Regions from separate parts of the Homo sapiens genome. Here region 1 is linked to region 2. A link means that fine-mapping ties the variant in region 2 to the expression of a gene that starts in the linked region. Tissue or cell type: whole blood. Region 2 holds a variant in brackets; the other region holds the start of a gene. All regions are shown on one strand. Distances are between the middles of the regions.

Evidence for each region. PIP is the estimated chance that this variant, and not a neighbour inherited with it, causes the effect.
Region 1: it holds the start of ST6GAL1, and the variant in region 2 is fine-mapped to the expression of ST6GAL1 in whole blood (TOPMed, PIP above 0.99).

What each region holds. Positions count from the first base shown.
Region 1 is chr3:186,926,915-186,935,022 of GRCh38, forward strand. It overlaps ST6GAL1 (ST6 beta-galactoside alpha-2,6-sialyltransferase 1), which reads left to right and starts at 3,612. Exons shown (of 8, transcript NM_173216.2): 1 at 3,612-3,920. RefSeq lists enhancers at 3,227-3,835, 5,929-5,978, 5,999-6,058 and silencers at 3,523-3,602, 3,843-4,032.
Region 2 is chr3:187,111,104-187,119,211 of GRCh38, forward strand. No RefSeq gene overlaps it. Among named protein-coding and RNA genes, the nearest start is that of RPL39L, 24 kb to the right of the region's middle. The variant C/A (reference allele first, on the strand shown) is at 4,871.

The DNA of each region.
Region 1 (8,108 bases), 180 kb before region 2:
TTTATTTATTTATTTACTTATTTTTGAGAGAGAGTCTTGCTCTGTTTGCCCAGGCTGGAGTGCAGTGGCGTGATCTTGGCTCACTGCAACCTCTGCCTTCCGGGTTCAAGCAATTCTCCTGCCTCAGCCTCCCGAGTACCTGGGACTACAGGTGACTGCCACCACGCCCAACTAATTTTTTGTATTTTTAGTAGAGATGAAGTTTCACCATGTTGACCAGGCTAGTCTCGAACTCCCGACCTCAGGTGATCTGCCCGTCTCAATCTCCCAAAATGCTGGGATTACAGGTGTGAGCCACCATGCCTGGTCCGGGTCTCTTTTATAAGGGCGCTAGTTCCATTTGTGAGGGCTCTGCCCTCATAACCTAATCACCTCCTCCAGATGCCCCACCTCCAAATACCATCATCTTGGGGGTTAGGAATTCATTGTACGAATTTTGGGGGGATACAACATGCAGACCATAGCAGGAAGCTGTGGGTGGAGGGCCCAGAACTGAGATACTGTCCAGAGGGAAAGTGGGTATCTGTACTTCTCAAAAAAACCAAAACCAACCTGTCAAGGCAGGGACCCCAGAGAAAATGGGAGGAGAAGCCTCACATGTATAGACTGGGAGGACAGGATCATCTCCAAAGTAATGCCCCAGCCTCTGCCTCTCACTTATAGGTCAGAGGGTCCTAAGTGATAAGAGAGAACCTTGGTGGAGGCTGCTCCACAATGGCCCCCATCCTGGAATTTTACCAGGAGCACCCTTGCTTGCCCACTCATCTGTCTCAGACGCCCAGGAAATTTTTGCACGTGTCATATCATCTGTGCTTATCTCAGTGTTGAGATAACCTTTTCCCTTGTTTTCTCCTTAATTTGGTTTTCCAGTTCTCTGCAAAAGAGAACTGCGGAGTGGGGACTGGACAACCTCTGAAAGAGCGCCTTCTGCTTTTGTGGAGTGCAGTGGCGTGATCTCGGCTCACTGTAAGCTCCGCCTCCTGGGTTCACACCATTCTCCGGCCTCAGCCTCCTGAGTGGCTGGGACTACAGGCGCCCGTCATCGCGTGCCCGCCTAATTTTGTTTTTGTATTTTTAGTAGAGATGGAGTTTCACCATGTTAGCCAGGATGGTCTTGATCTCCTGACCTGTGATCCGCCCGCCTCGGCCTCCCAAGGTGCTGGGATTACAGGCGTGAGCCACCACGCCCAGCCCCGGTTAATTTGTTTTGTGTTTTTAGTAGAGACAAGGTTCCACTGTGCTAGCCAAGATGGTCTTGGTCTCCTGACCTCATGATCCGCCCGCCTAGGCCTCCCAAAGTGCTGGGATTACAGGCGTGAACCACCGCACCAGGCTGTTCTTAGTTCTTAAGTAATGTTGACATATGGGTGATGATGAAGGAGATGATTAAAGCTTTCAAAGAAAGTGGAAGAATGTGTCAAATTCTCTCTTCACTTCCTAGATGACTTCAGTTTCCTAATCCATAAAATAGGACTAAGACCATTACTTATCTGATGAAAAGGAGAGACAATGTAATAAATAAGGTGCTTTGAATCCTGTATTAGTCCATTGTCACACTACTGAGAAAATTATAAATTACCTGAGACTGGGTAATTTATAAACAAAAGAGGTTTAATTGACTCACAGTTCCATATGGCTGGGGAGGCCTCAGGAAACTTATAATCATGGTGGAAGGTGAAGGGGAAGCAGGGCACATCTTACATGGCGGCAGGTGAGAGAGAGAATGCAGGGGAAATGCCAGACACTTATCAAACAACCAGATCCCGTGAGAGCTCCCTATCACAAAAACATCATGGGGGAAACCGCCCCCCACGATCCAATCACCTCCCAGGAGGTCCCTCCCCTGACACATGTGGATTACAATTCAAGATGAGATTTTTGGGTGGGGACACAGAGCCAAACCATGTCAGATCTCCAAATGGTAGCTATTATTTAGATGTCCTTTTCTTCTGTCTTGTTACAGTCACTGACACAGTTCAGGCTCTTATTATATCTCCATTGATGTCAGCTTCCAATCTAGTCTCTTGCATTCTCTGCTTCTGCCATCTATTTTCCAGTGTGGTGCCAGAGGAATCCTTGTAAAATACAAAGATGCATGTCATGCTACTGCACAGAATCTTTTAATAGCCTCCTTTTTTTTTTTCCCTTTTTCGAATAGGGCCTAAAATCTTCAATGTAGCATCCTTCCAGAAATAGTCTTCTGAACTTGGCTGCTTCTATTCATTCACGCATACATACATTTTACTGTCAGGAGCACCTTCTATATGCCAAACACTAAGCTACGTGTTTCACGTAGGTCATTTCACAGGATCCTGAAAACAACGCTTTCCTTAATATCTCCATTTTGCAGAAGAGGAAAGGGAGGCTCACAGGATGTGGAACTCACCCAAGAAGGCACAGCGAGTTGGTCATAAAGATTTGAATTCACTCTGGCTGGCACTCCCTTCAATTGGAGCTCTTTGTACTGAGCAAAAATGCCTCAGGGGCAGCAGGGAAGGGAATGACAGTATCAGCAGAAGGGAGCCAGGATCAGGACAGGGAGGAAGCAGTGTTTGGAAGAAGGGTGCTGGGGACAGGGTGCGGATGTAACTTCCCTTTCCAAGGTTGGTGATGTGGGGTAGGCACCTCATTTGGAGACAGAACTCTGGGCCTGGGCTTCAGGCACTTTAAGTGTGCACTGGACTTTGTGTTCCCAGAGGACCCCCAAACCTTCCAGTATCTCCTTCCTTTCCCCTTTCCCACCCAGCACACAGCCTGGTGCCTAGTGTGCACTCAGTAGACAACTGGGATATGACTATTGCCTCTGGTAGTCACATCCTCTCTTTGGGCTATGGGAGGCTGGACTGGAGGCCTTAAAGGCCCCTTCCGCCCTCCTGTTGGGCAGTTTTTCTTTCTTAGGGAAATCGCCTTGGGGCTATCGGGGATGGTCAGTACGCAGCTTGGTTAATCCTCTTTCCTTCCCCAGCAGCCCCACCGTCGTCCGGGTGAAAAGAAAGAACCTCGCTCCCTTCACCATCCAGGCTGAGGCTTCAGTCTTTCAGCCTGCAGCTTGGGGTGGAAGCCTCTGGGTGCAGGGGTTCGAGGACGCTCCTCTCCTTCTGTATTTGCCATTTGAGAGCGCCCAGTAGGAGTCATGCCTCAATGTTAGGAGGTTAATGCCAAACGCAGTGAAAGATTTTGTTCTTTCCTATTCTAGATAAGAGCAACACGAGTCTTCGGAGAGGTTAAGCGACTTCCTCAGGGTCTCGCAGTCAGCCGGTAGCAGAGACCGGGTGTACAGCACCCGCATGTTAGGACCAAAAGCCGGACACTGCTGGATTGACCCCTCGCGGCCAAGCGGGGAAGAGGCATTTAGGGGTCCTTGCGCAGCCGCGTGGCCCCTCCCACTCGGCCCTCGATCCACCCTCCTTGAGAGCAGGCAGGATTCTAGCATCACCCAGTGCCTTCATCAAGAGTCTTTAACCCCAAGCCCGCTCGCTAGCGACCTCCAGGCCGGTTTGGGGCGCGGTGTGGCCGGTGGCGAGAGGTGGAGTGGGGGCGGAGACCGACCCAGTCTTCGCAACTCTATTTGCATACGGAGGCGACTCGCTTCCTTCCCGCCCCTCCGCCGCGCTCTTCTTCCTTCCTTCTCCAGTCCCTTCCACTGTGCGTCTTCTGTCCCCCGTTCTTCCCCAGCGGACCCCTCTTTCGAGACTCCCTAGTGGGGTCCCCAGCTCCCGGGCGATCCTGCCCTTGCCGAGCGCGTTTTCTGGAGTCACCTGGGGGAGGGGAGTCCTGGGCAGGGCCGGGCTGGGGAAGACGCCTGGGGCACTGCCCGGCGTTAACAAAGGGAGCCGATACCGACCGGCGTGGGCGCGGAGCGGGCGGCCGCCACCGAGCGTGCTGAGCAACCGCAGCCTCCGCGGCCGAGAGTGCAGCGAGTGAGTAGGGGGTGCGGTGGGCGGCGGCGCGGCCCGGGCTATCCCGGGAGGAGTGTGATGCAAAGGGGCGCGGGAGGATAGCGGAGGCGCGGGGCCCGCGGCGCGCGTAGGGCGCAGGGAATCTCTCTCCAGCTCCGCCTCAGCTGCCTTGGCTCCGGGGCTGGCCGCCTTTTGGTTGGGGGTGTGTGCATTTTTGTCAGGGCCAAAGGGCCACCCTGGCTTCTCTCTGGCTCCGCGAGCCTGCGGATCCACAACAAACCCACGTGCGCACAGCCCCGGGGAACACGGATTTCTCCACGGCACCGTCAGTATGGGGTGGGGTGGCGTGGGGGCATTGCGCCTTGCAGAGTCTGGGTTTACGGATCGACAAATTGAGGCCCGCGGCAGCGGAGGGGGCACAGGCACCATAACAAACGCACGTGCGCCCTGCCCGGAGAGCTGGACGCACTGCATACCCTTAGGGGCCGCCCTGCGGTGCCGGGCCATTGTCTCAGCCTCGGGGGAGGGAGTGGCTCTAGAGGCGCCACTTGCTGGAAGAGGGCGAGAGAGACATTTAAAAGGTACCGCTTGGGCATCAGACTAAACTGCCAGACTTAAAAAGGGAAACCAAAACAAGAAAGCAGCTACAAAAAGGTTACTCCAGGCTGAGTCGGTCCCCGGCCGTGGCGCATTCTTTTGGGTGAAGTGGACCACCCCTCACCTTCACCTCCTGGAGGTCTCTTAGAGATGTGGGTTGGGTTAAGGGTCTAAGGGTGCCCCTCAAAAAAAGAGAGTGCTGGGTGCACTATTGTCCCCGCACTCCGGCGATTGCCTCTGTGGGGATATTTTGGTCGCCTCCTCAGCCTGCGGGAAGAATGTACGAGTCGCCCAGTGCGGTCTTGCTCTTTGCCTCTGAGGCCCGTGTCCGTGTGCCCAGACACCCCAGATGTCACTAGCCCCTTTTGGCTTGTTAATGCATTTTCGCAAGCAAGGCCAGCCGAGACCTCGTATTCTAGCTGGGGACGTACAATTTTCAGTTCTGAGTTTATTTGAAAGAAATTCCGAGGTCCGGAAAAAGAGAACTCTTGTTTGTTTTGCTTTTTCTTTGCTTACATATGCTCAGCTCAGCTTTGCAGATGTTAATCGGACACGATCTGCAGCGGGGAGATGGTTTCGCGGTGAATTGGTCTCTGAGGCGATGGTGTTGGTGCAGGTTGTGGGCGTGCAGTGTGAGCAGGAATGGAGGCGCCGCCGCCCCAGTGTGTGCCTGCTGAGCGGGCGGGCTGCTGCCTCACCTTGGCTAGTGTGGCTGAAGATTAACCTGTCCCCGGGGGGGGAACTGGAGAGCCTCCAATCCTATTCCGCTGTTATTGAAAAGGTCTAGAGAGCATCTAGGGAGCCTTCTCATTTTACAGGCAGGAAGCTGAGGCCGGAGAGTTCAGCCACTTGTCCAAGTTTAAACCGGGTGAAACGGGCCACAGAGAGAACACTTGAGTGTGGGTCTCCCAACTCCCACTGCATCGCTCAGCGGGCAACTAAAGGCAAAACCGGGATTCTGTGATTGGCCTAAAAGGCAGTGGCCTTAGGCAGAATAGGGTGAAACAAAGAGTAATTCAAATAGAAAGCTGCACCCTTCCATTATCCCTTTCAAGAATTCTTTATTCTGTTGAGAAAAAATAGATTTAGTAATTCCTTACTCTCCTTCAAGCCTTTCAAAAGCTTAGTTATTTTTCTCTCCTGGCTGCCCCTTCCCCTCAAATTGGAATAAGGCCAGCTACGGAGACTCAGATGTTTTGCCTCTCATCCTTGTGCCAGGAGGCCTTTGTTTGGGCAAAAGCATGGGCTGTTGACATCAGCCCCACGGGGAAGAAAGTGTGTCTTAGCAAGCTACTCCTGAGCCACTTGTGGGAGAACAAAGCATTGTTTTCACTGATCTTATTAAAGTTACTTTTTTTTTAACGAGAGTCCCATGGAAGTAGCTGCTTATTTTTGTATTTGGCAGAGAAGTAGGAAAACCAAAAAAACACTGAGAAGCCGGATTTCCCCAAAGTTAACATGTTGTTTTGCACTGTGCCTGTTATCTCCTAGTTACACTTGTTTCTTTTCCTTAGAGTTTCCAGCGTGTTTCACTTTCAATGTGATTCTGGTAGCAACAGGAGGCAGCTGGATGCCTAGGCAGATAGGGTCAGGTACCCGGTGAAACCCCCACCTCCAGGCCAAAGACAGTTTAAAGCCTGAAAGCCAAGCTACGAGTTAAATCCTCAGACCAGAGTGAGAACTTGTTTGGCGTGCTTTCCCCTAATTGATTCCTACATTTCGCCTGTTTTACATATACCCACTTTTTCCTAATTGGTTTTCTACGCTGCCGTGCCCACCTTTGAGTGGTGTCTTTGCTTTCATCTTTTTTGCATACTCACAAACCGGTCAGCATGCACTCCCTATTCTGAGTCCATAAAAGGCCCCTGACCCAGCCACATTGGGGAACTTTTCCGTCTTCAGGTAGGGGACCAACCCGGTGTCCCCTCTCTGCTGAAAGCTGTTTTCAACACTCAATAAAATTCTTATCTGCCTTCCTCTCCCTTCAATGTCCAGTGTATCCTCATTATCCTTTGGTGTGGTGCACGAGCTCGGAACCACCGAACGCGGGTACAAGCTATAATACAGTGAGCTGGGACACACCTGCATGGCCGAGCGAGCACAGGTGGGGCATTGCTGGCCCGAGGACCAAGAAGAAAAATCCTACATCAATTCCTCTTGGCACTGCAGTATAGTTTTCTCACCAGGACGCTGACCCTGTAAGGAACTTCAGAAATCATGTGACTGGACCCTTTTACTTTCCAGATGGGAAAAGTGAGGCCTAGAGAAGAGAAATTGCTTGCCTAATGATACACAACAATGCGTGGTCTACTTTTAGTGCACCTTTTTGCGTAAAAGGGAAATGGTTGCATCAAACCAGTAGTTGTTGGTACTCCAGAGAAAAGCCAAAGTTATGGTTGTTATAACAACACCCTTTAAGTCAGAGAACCAATTCCTTATGGATTTAAATAGGTTTGGTTATTAAGCAAAGCCAGGGATCCCAGTAGTAGGTATGCTGAATAGTGCAATTATCTCTGGGGATCAGCTTTCTTTAGTGTTTGCTGAACGGTTCACTTTACTCTTGTGCTGGGTTCCTCCATGTCTCTGTCTTGTGCTTCCCCATTTAGGGGCTGCTTTGTATGAAATCATAAGGCAAGAGGCAGTGAGAAGACAGAAGAGAGAGGCGCCACTTAGCTGTTCATGCTACTTAACCTCTTGGGCTCCAGTTTCCTTCTTTGTACAGTGAGGGTTCTCCTTGCCCAGTCTCTGCACAGGCTGTTCCAGCGGAGCGGAAGATGCTCAGGCCATAGGAGGGGTTTGGGGTCATCTTCCTGTCTCTAGTATTACTTTAAAACCAGCAGGCTGGGCCAGGTGTGGTGGCTCACTCCAGTAATCACAGCACTTCAGGAGGCCGAGGAGGGAAGAGTTCGAATTCCTTGAGCTCAGGAGTTTGAGACCAGCCTGAGCAACATAGTGAGACTACCTCCCCCACCGCCATCTCTACAAAAAATAAAAGAACAAAATTAGCTGGGCATGGTGGCGTACTCCTGTGGTCCCAGCTACCTGGGAGGCTGAGACAGGAGAATCGCTGGAGCCTGGGAGGTGGAGGTTGCAGTGAGCCGCGATCTCACCACTGTACTCCAGCCTGGGGACATAGCGAGACCCTGTCTCAAAAACAGAAAATAAAACAAAACAACAACAACAGAAAACCAGCAGGCTGCCTCTGCGTTGTGTAAAGTGAGGGGAGTAAGGCGTATGAATCTCCTGGGGTTGTTGAGGGCATTAAGTCACATGATGCATTCTTATGACTGGTCAGACCTCTTGGCAGGCTTGAGTGCTTACCAGCTTTTAAAAAATTTTATTTATTTATGTATTTATTTATTTATTTATTTTTTCAGATGGCGTCTCGCTCTGTCACCCAGGCTGGAGTGCAGTGGTGCAATCTCGGCTCACTGCAAGCTCCGCCTCCCGGGTTCACGCCATTCTCCTGCCTCAGCCTCCCGAGTAGCTGGGACTACAGGTGCCCGCCACCACGCCCGGCTAATTTTTGTATGTTTAGTAAAGACGGGGTTTCACCTTGTTAGCCAGGATGGTCTCGATCAAAAATTTTATTTTTTTTAAACTTTTATTTTG
Region 2 (8,108 bases):
ACTTCCCTGCCTCCTCTGAGGGCTTAGCATTTGCTGCAAGTTCCAAATCACTCTTACCTAATACTATGAAAGAGAATTTGATGAGCTGCCCAAAGAAGTATAATAGATTATGAATATGAGTGCTCAGAGACCAGTTTTGTTCAAGCAAACAGGGAAGACATTCAGGAGAATACGGGACCTGATTTGAGTCTTAGAATATAAGATGTAGAGACGGTGTAGGGGAATTGGCCTACAAAGGAGCTGTAGTGTGCGTGAGTGGAGACGCAGATGGTCCCCGATTTACTATGGTTCAACTTCAGAGGTTTTGACGTTAGGATGGTGCAAAAGTTATAAGCATTCAGTATGCTTCTCAATTTACAATGGGGCTACATCAGGATAAACCAATTATAAGTTGAAAATATCAGTTTGTTCAGACTTAATCCCACCTTAAGTCAAGGAGTGCCTGTATTTGATATGGAAGTCAGGAGAATGCTACATTAATACTTCTTCTGCATGATCCTCAGACCATCACCTGAGTATCACAATGAAAGCACCCATTCTCCATTTCTTCTCTCCCATTCACCTATACATTCCTGTTCCCAGAGGGAACCACTTTCAAATCTTCGCCATTTATTATAGTATTCACTTTCATTTTCCTAAAGGATATGATTATACTGCCATGTTTTTGTTTTTTGACTTTAAATATTATTTACTACAATAGATGATAAAGATTTAGCCATCTTACAATTCACACCTCATCCACACACAATTCTTCTATACCCCACTCCTAATGTAGTTATAATAGCATCATATTTGGTTAAGTCAATATTCAAAGATTATATGTTTTGACTATGTAAATGTTATTTACAGCTGAGTTATGTATGGGTTTCATGGTTACATTTTCTTTCCCCGCCCCCTGCATTTTTTTTTTTTTTTTGAGAGAGAGTTTCCCTCTTGTTGCCCAGGCTGGAGTGCAATGACGTGATCTCAGCTCAACACAACCTCCGCCTCTGTGGTTCAAGCGATTCTCCTGCCTCAGCCTCCCGAGTAGCTGGGATTACAGGCATGTGCCACCATGCCCAGCTAATTTTGTATTTTTAGTAGAGACAGGGTTTCTCCATGTTGGTCAGGCTGGTTTCGAACTCCTGACCTCAGATGATCCACCTGCCTCAGCCTCCCAAAGTGCTAGGATTACAGGTGTGAGCTATTGCACCTGGCCTCTTTCCTTTTCTTTAACCACCCCCCTACCCTGGAGTTAATGATTACATTTTTTTGTTTGCTTAGTATTCTTTTGTAATATCACCAGTTTATCCCCAAATTCTGACACAGCTGTCAAACTTTTGTTGGTACAATTATTTATAAATATTAAATATTCTATAAGCTTCTTTTTAATCCTTCCTTCCTTTCTCTTTCTCTTTTCTCTTCTCTTTTCTTCTTCCTTCCTTCCTTCCTTCCTTCCTTCCTTCCTTCCTCTCTCTCTCTCTCTTTCTTTCGAGACAGAATCTCACTCTGTCGCACAGGCTGGAGTGCAGTGGCATGGTCTTGGCTCACTGTAACCTCTGCCTCCCTACCTCAAGCAATTCTCCCACCTCCGCCTCCTAAGTCGCTGGGACTACAGGTGTGTGCCACCACACCTGGCTAATTTTTGTATTTTCAGTAGAGACAGGGTTTTGTCACATTGGCCGGGCTGGTCTTGAACTCCTGACCTCAAGCGATCCGCCCGCTTTGGCCTCCCAAAGTGCTGGGATTACAGGCATGAGCCACCACGCCTGGCCTATAAGCTTCATTTTGGAGGGGAGTCTCTGGGGGCGCTGTCTCTCCTGAACTGGTGATCTCTAACCCTACATTAAACAAGTGTTCTCCTAGAACTTCATTTCATCATCATCTTAGGAATTTCCTTTGCTCCTCTGTGAATCTTGTTCCTTTTTCCCTCACACTGCTTCTTTCTTAGTTTACATCTCCTTGCTTTTGTGGGACATACCAGAACGTGGTTTTTAGAGAGAGAGGGCACATGGGAGGAGGCAGCAGGGTGAAGGTGGGAATGGATGGCTCAGAGGAAACATGCCATATAAGGAAATGTGAAGTTATCACCTGACAGTAATGCAAGGACACCGTGTTGTGTGCTCTTGGAGGTTCTTCCTTCAGAGACAATAAATTTCAACTATACTGGATTTGAAAGGTAAAGCCTTTAAGATAGAGCTTTATATTTTTTGGTGTGCATAACAGGCTTGGATATCTCCTGGAAGACACACTATTCCTCCCCCAAGTACCAAAACACAATCATTAAAGAAGCTGTACTTCACCACATTGACAGAAGAGGGCACCATTAAATGAAGAATCTTGTAAATTAGCCCACATCCACAAAAAGAATTACAAAAAATGGAATAAATCTATGCAAAGCTTCTTAAAGAAAGAGACTCAACACACCTCAAGTGATAAAAATTTTCCACCACTCCAAGGGAGGTAAATACAAAAATGACCATGAAGCAGAGGAAAACTGCAATGCTACACTCCAGACTCAAATAACCTCAAACAAGTATAGACATGTGAAAAGCTATACATATATATACATATATGTGTATATATGTATATATATGTATATATGTGTGTATATATGTATATATTTGAACCTCCCAGGTTCAAACATAAATTTTAGAACTATATTTATTTTTTGAACCTCCCAGGTTCAAGAGATTCTCCTGCCTTAGCCTCCCAAGTAGCTGGGATTACAGGTGGGCGCCATCACACCCAGGGAATTTTTGTATTTTTAGTAGAGACGGGGTTTCACCATGTTGTCCAGACTGGTCTCAAACTCCTAACCTCAAGTGATCCACCTGTCTTGGCCTCCCAGAGTGCTGGGATTACAGGCATGAGCCACTGCGCCTGGCCTGAAAAACTATCTTTAATCAGAAATTAAAATATAAATGGATTTAGAAAAAAATGGGAAGTAATGAACAGTGTGTTGATTGAACTCAGAAAGAAAATAAAAGAAAAAGAAAAATAATCTTAGGATTGAAACATAAATTTTAAGAGGGTACTTATATTGGTTTCCTAGGGCTATCTTAACAGATTACTATAAACTGAGAGCTTGAAACAATAGGAATTTATTTTCCCACAGTTCTGGAGGCCAGAGGTCTCAAATCAAGGGGCTGGCAGGGCTTGTTTCTTCCCGAGGCTCTGAGGGAAGGGTCTGCTCTATCTCTCCTTCATAGCTTCTGGGGGCTGCCAGCAATCCTTGTTGTTCTTTGGTTTATAGATGCGTCACTCTAATCTCCACCTTCCTTCCCACATTACCATCGTTTCTATGTGTCTTCTCTCCTTCTATTCTAAGGATACTTGGAATTGGAATTAGGGCTCAACCAGAAAACCTAGGATGATTTTATCTTGAGATACTTAATTACACCTGCAAAGACCCTTTTTCCAAATAAGATCATATTCCCAGGTTCTGAGTAGACATTTTTGGGGTGTGGGGGTGGGCGTGGTCATCATCACCTCGCTATAGCACCCAAAGGAGAATGTACTCAGATGGAAATTTAATATGGGCACTGAACAAAGGCAAACAAGCAAGAAAATGAAATGAAATAAAGAAGTGAAATGGGTCAGGAAGAAAGTGATTGACAGGGAAGACAGTCCAAAGCAACACTGGTATAACTGGAGTACATGAAGAAGAAATAGCAAACAATGTAACTATCATTTAAAACTATAATTGAACTGTTGAACTGGGTGACAGGGTGAGACCCTGTCCCTAAAAAAACAAAAACAGAACTGTAATAGAAGAAGAAAGCTTTCCAGGAGTAAATACAGGTTTAACTTTAAAAATGCCCAAACTATTCCCTATTTTTTATTCCCACCAGCAATGTATGAGAATTTCAGTTGCTTTGCATCCTTGACAGCACTTGCTATTGTCAACTGTATTCTTTTGCTTTTTTTTTTGTTTATTCATTCTTATAGGTCAATAGTGGTATTTTACTGTAGCTTTATTTTGTATATCCTAAAAATGATGTTAATTGCATATCACTATGAACCTCTTTTAATGTGCTTATTTGCCAACTACATATCATCTATGATGAAGCGTCTGTTCAAATTCTTTGCCTGTTTTATAAATTGTTGTTTCCTTATTATTGAACTTTGATAGTTCTTTTTATAATCTGGATATAAGGCTCTTATTTGATATATGTAGTATACAGAGATATCTAGAGAGAGCAAATATTCTGCTTCTGATGTTACTTTTCATTCTCTTAATGTCTTAAAGAGAAATGATTTTAAATTTAATAAAGTCCAACTTATCAAGTTTTTAATTTTATGAATTGTGTTTTTGTTGTCATATTTAAGACACCTCTGCCTCACCCAAACTTAAGAATATTTCTTTTATGCTGTCTTCTAGAAGCTTTATACCATTAGATTTTACATTTAGGTCTATGATCCCATTAGAGTTTATTTTTGTATATGGTACAAGATATGGATCAAGGTGGGTTTTTTTTTTAACATGTAGATGTGCATAATTTGTTGTAAAGACTATCCTTTGTCCACTGAATTGCCTTTGCACCTTTGTCAAAAGTTCATTGATCCTCTATGCATCGATCTATTTTTTAAATTTCCTGTCTTGTTTCTTCATTCTACTTGTCTATCTTACTTCACCAAGCCTACATTAGCTCAATTACTATAGCTTTACCATAAGTGTTAAAATCAGTTAGGGCCCAGTGTGGTGGCTCATGTCTGTAATTCTAGCATTTTGGGAGGCCAAGGCAGAAGGATCACTTGAGCCCAGGAGTTTGAGATCCACCTGGGCAACATAGGGAGACCTCATCTCTACAAAAAATTTTAAAAATTAAAAAAACTAAAATCAGTTAGTATGAACCCTCCAAATTTGTTGCTTTTTTCAAAATTATTT[C/A]GGGTATTCTACATTCTTTGCATTTCCACATAAATTTTAGAATCAACTTATTTCTACAGGAAAGCCTATTATGTTTCTGATTGGAATTGTGTTAAATCTATAGGTCAATTTGAAGAAAAATGACATTTTACCACTACTGAGTTCTCCAATCTATGAATACAGTATATCTCTCCATTTATTTAAGGCTTTGCTTTCTTTCAGCAGTGTTTTGCAGTTTTCAGCATACAATCCTTTGCATATTTTTGTTAGATTTATTCTTAAGTATTTTGTTTTTTGATGTATTGTAAATGGTACTATGGTAGTATTTTAAAATTTTTAATTTCCAATCATTTATTTTTATAATACTGAAATTCAATTGTGTTTTGAATATTAGCCATATATATTGTGACTTGCTAACCTCACCTGTTGGTTCTAGGATCTATTTTATAGAATATTTGGGGTTTTTATATCTAGACAATAATTTCATTAATGCATAGAAACAAATACTGGAAGAAAAGGTGAGGCAAATTCATTTAAAAAATGGGTATAGAGAAAGGATTTCTAATTATGACTCAGAATCTCGATATAGTAAAAACAATTTGATAAATTTTGTTGCATAAAAAACCTTTTGTGTGGGAAAATACCATAAACAAAGTAAAAATACAACGGAGAAATTTGAAGAAAAAATTTGCAACATACATCAGAAAGGGCTAATATCCCTAATATATAAAGAACTCTTAAAAATGGAGAGGAAAAAGTCCAAAAATATGACATGAAAATGGGCTTAAAACATGAACAGACCACACACACACAAACACGATATAAAAATGGCCCTTACACATATGAAAAGGTGTTCAACCTCACTCAAACAAATGAATGCAAATTAAGACTATACTGAGATACCGTTTCTCACCTACCAGATGGGGAAAATTAGATAGTGTGATGCCATTCTGATGAAAGGCTGTGAGAAGAGAAGACAGCTGTGAGGGGTTTTCAGCACTCGGCTCTCCAGTTCATCCTTCTACATGAGTTTCAGTGATGATCAAGGAAGATACGTGAGGAGAAGAGAGTGCCTGTGCTGTTTGGTGCAGACTTAGAAAGGATGTTGGGAACAAAGCACTGGGGTGTTCTGGAGATGTTATCTGAGTTCCAAAGAGTGGATTTAATACATTTTTTAAAAATTTTCTAATTCCACAGGTTATTGGGGAACAGGTGGTGTTTGGTTACATAAGTTAAGTTCTTTAGTGGTAATTTGTGAGATTTTCGGTTCACCCATCACCCAAGCAGTATACACTGCACCCAGTTTGTAGTCTTTTATTCCTCACTCCCTTCCCACCCTTTCCCCCTGAGTCCCAAAGTCCATTGTGTCATTCTTATGCCTTTGCATCCTCATACTTAGCTCCCACTTATGAGTGAGAACATACAATATTTGATTTTCCATTCCTGAGTTACTTCACTTAGAATAATAGTCTCCAATCTCATCCAGGTTTCTGCGAATGCCATTAATTAATTCCTTTTTATGGCTGAGTAGTATTCCATCATCCATCTATCATCTATCTATCTATCTATCTATCTATCTATCTATCTATCTATCTATCTATAAAAAACAGTTTCTTCATCCACTCATTGATTGATGGGCATTTGGGTTGGTTCCACATTTTTGCAATTACGAAATGTGCTGCTATAAACATGTGTGTGCAGGTATCTTTTTCGTATAATGACTTTTTTTCCTCTGGGTAGATACCCCGTAGTGGGATTGCTGGATCAAATGTAGACCTATACTGAACATACCCATTTACATCATCCTACAATTTCAAGTATATTTTCTCATATGATATGTGGCAAACAAAAGACATCTGTATCTTTTGATATGTGCTCTCTGTTAAGGTTGGTGCTGGTGCTTGAGAGTGACCTAAATTTTATGGGTCCCATCAAATGGAGGAAAAATTCTCTATAATTGACCTCAGATTTCATTAGGTGACAGATGGCCTATGCTCAGAACATAATCTATTAGAATCAGAAAACTACCTATTGTCTTGGATATTTATGGCAAATTATTAAAATGTTTTCAATCATCAATGCTAGCGTGTAGTCACAGCCCTTGGTGCAGCCTAAAGACAGATGAGCCCAAACCCCCACTCAGAAACAGACCATACCAAGGTAGAGAGGTTCAGCCAACCCACCCAGCTCAACTCAGCTCAGAGTCAGACCTCTGACACTCTAAAGTAGCATTTTATGAAAACCTTGTTTTATTGCCTCAGTTTATGAAGCTGTTTTCAATCTCATTCAAGCCTTGTAACTCAGTGAGGAAGTCGGCTGTCTGATATATCCAGGTGAAATACAATAATTAAGGCCCAGAGAGGTTCTCTACCAGTTGTCCAACATCATAAAACTGATGGGAAGAGCCATAACTTCAAGCTACCCGAATCCTAGTCCTTTGCTTTTTGTTTCTATTGTGGAAGAATTCTTCCCAGAAACAGGATCACTCCCACAAGCAGGGATTCCATTATTTCAAAATTGAGTCAGGAATCTTAAGATTATGGGAGTAAAGCCTTGTTCAATTAACTAGACTCAAGATACAGAAACCAAGATGGGTGTGGTGGCTCATGGCTGGAATTCCAGCACTTTGAGAGGCCAAGGTGGAAGGACTGCTTGAGGCTAGGAGTTGGAGACCAGCCTGGGCAACACAGTGAGGCCCTGTCTCTATAAAAAGTAAAAAATTAGCTGGGCATGGTGGTGCACACCTGTTATCCTAGCTACTCAGGAGGATGAGGTGGGAGAATCATTTGAGCCCAGAAGTTCAAGGCTGCAGTGAGCTAGGATCACATCACTGCACTCCAACCTGGGCGACAGAGCAAGACTGTCTCAAAAAAAAAAAAAAAAAGAAAAGAATAGAAACCAATACTCGATTTTATATATGGGCTCCTCCTTCCTCTTCCATCATAGCTTTCCCAGTATGATTCCCTTAATTTTCTTAACCCTAGTACAACCATCTCGTGATGCACAGACCAGATTTTTCCTCCACTGTTCCACCACTGGGACACGTTGTCTTAGGTCTATACAACATTGATCTAATCCCTGAAGATGAAGGGCCCACTTAAAAAAATTATCTATGTACTAAAAATGTATCTATGTCCGAGGCCTTCTTTGTACAGTCATCACTTGTTATTTGCCAGGGATTGGTTCTAGGACTTCTACAGATACTAAAACCACAGATGCTCAAGTCCTTTATATGAAATGGCCATACTTATTTGCATAT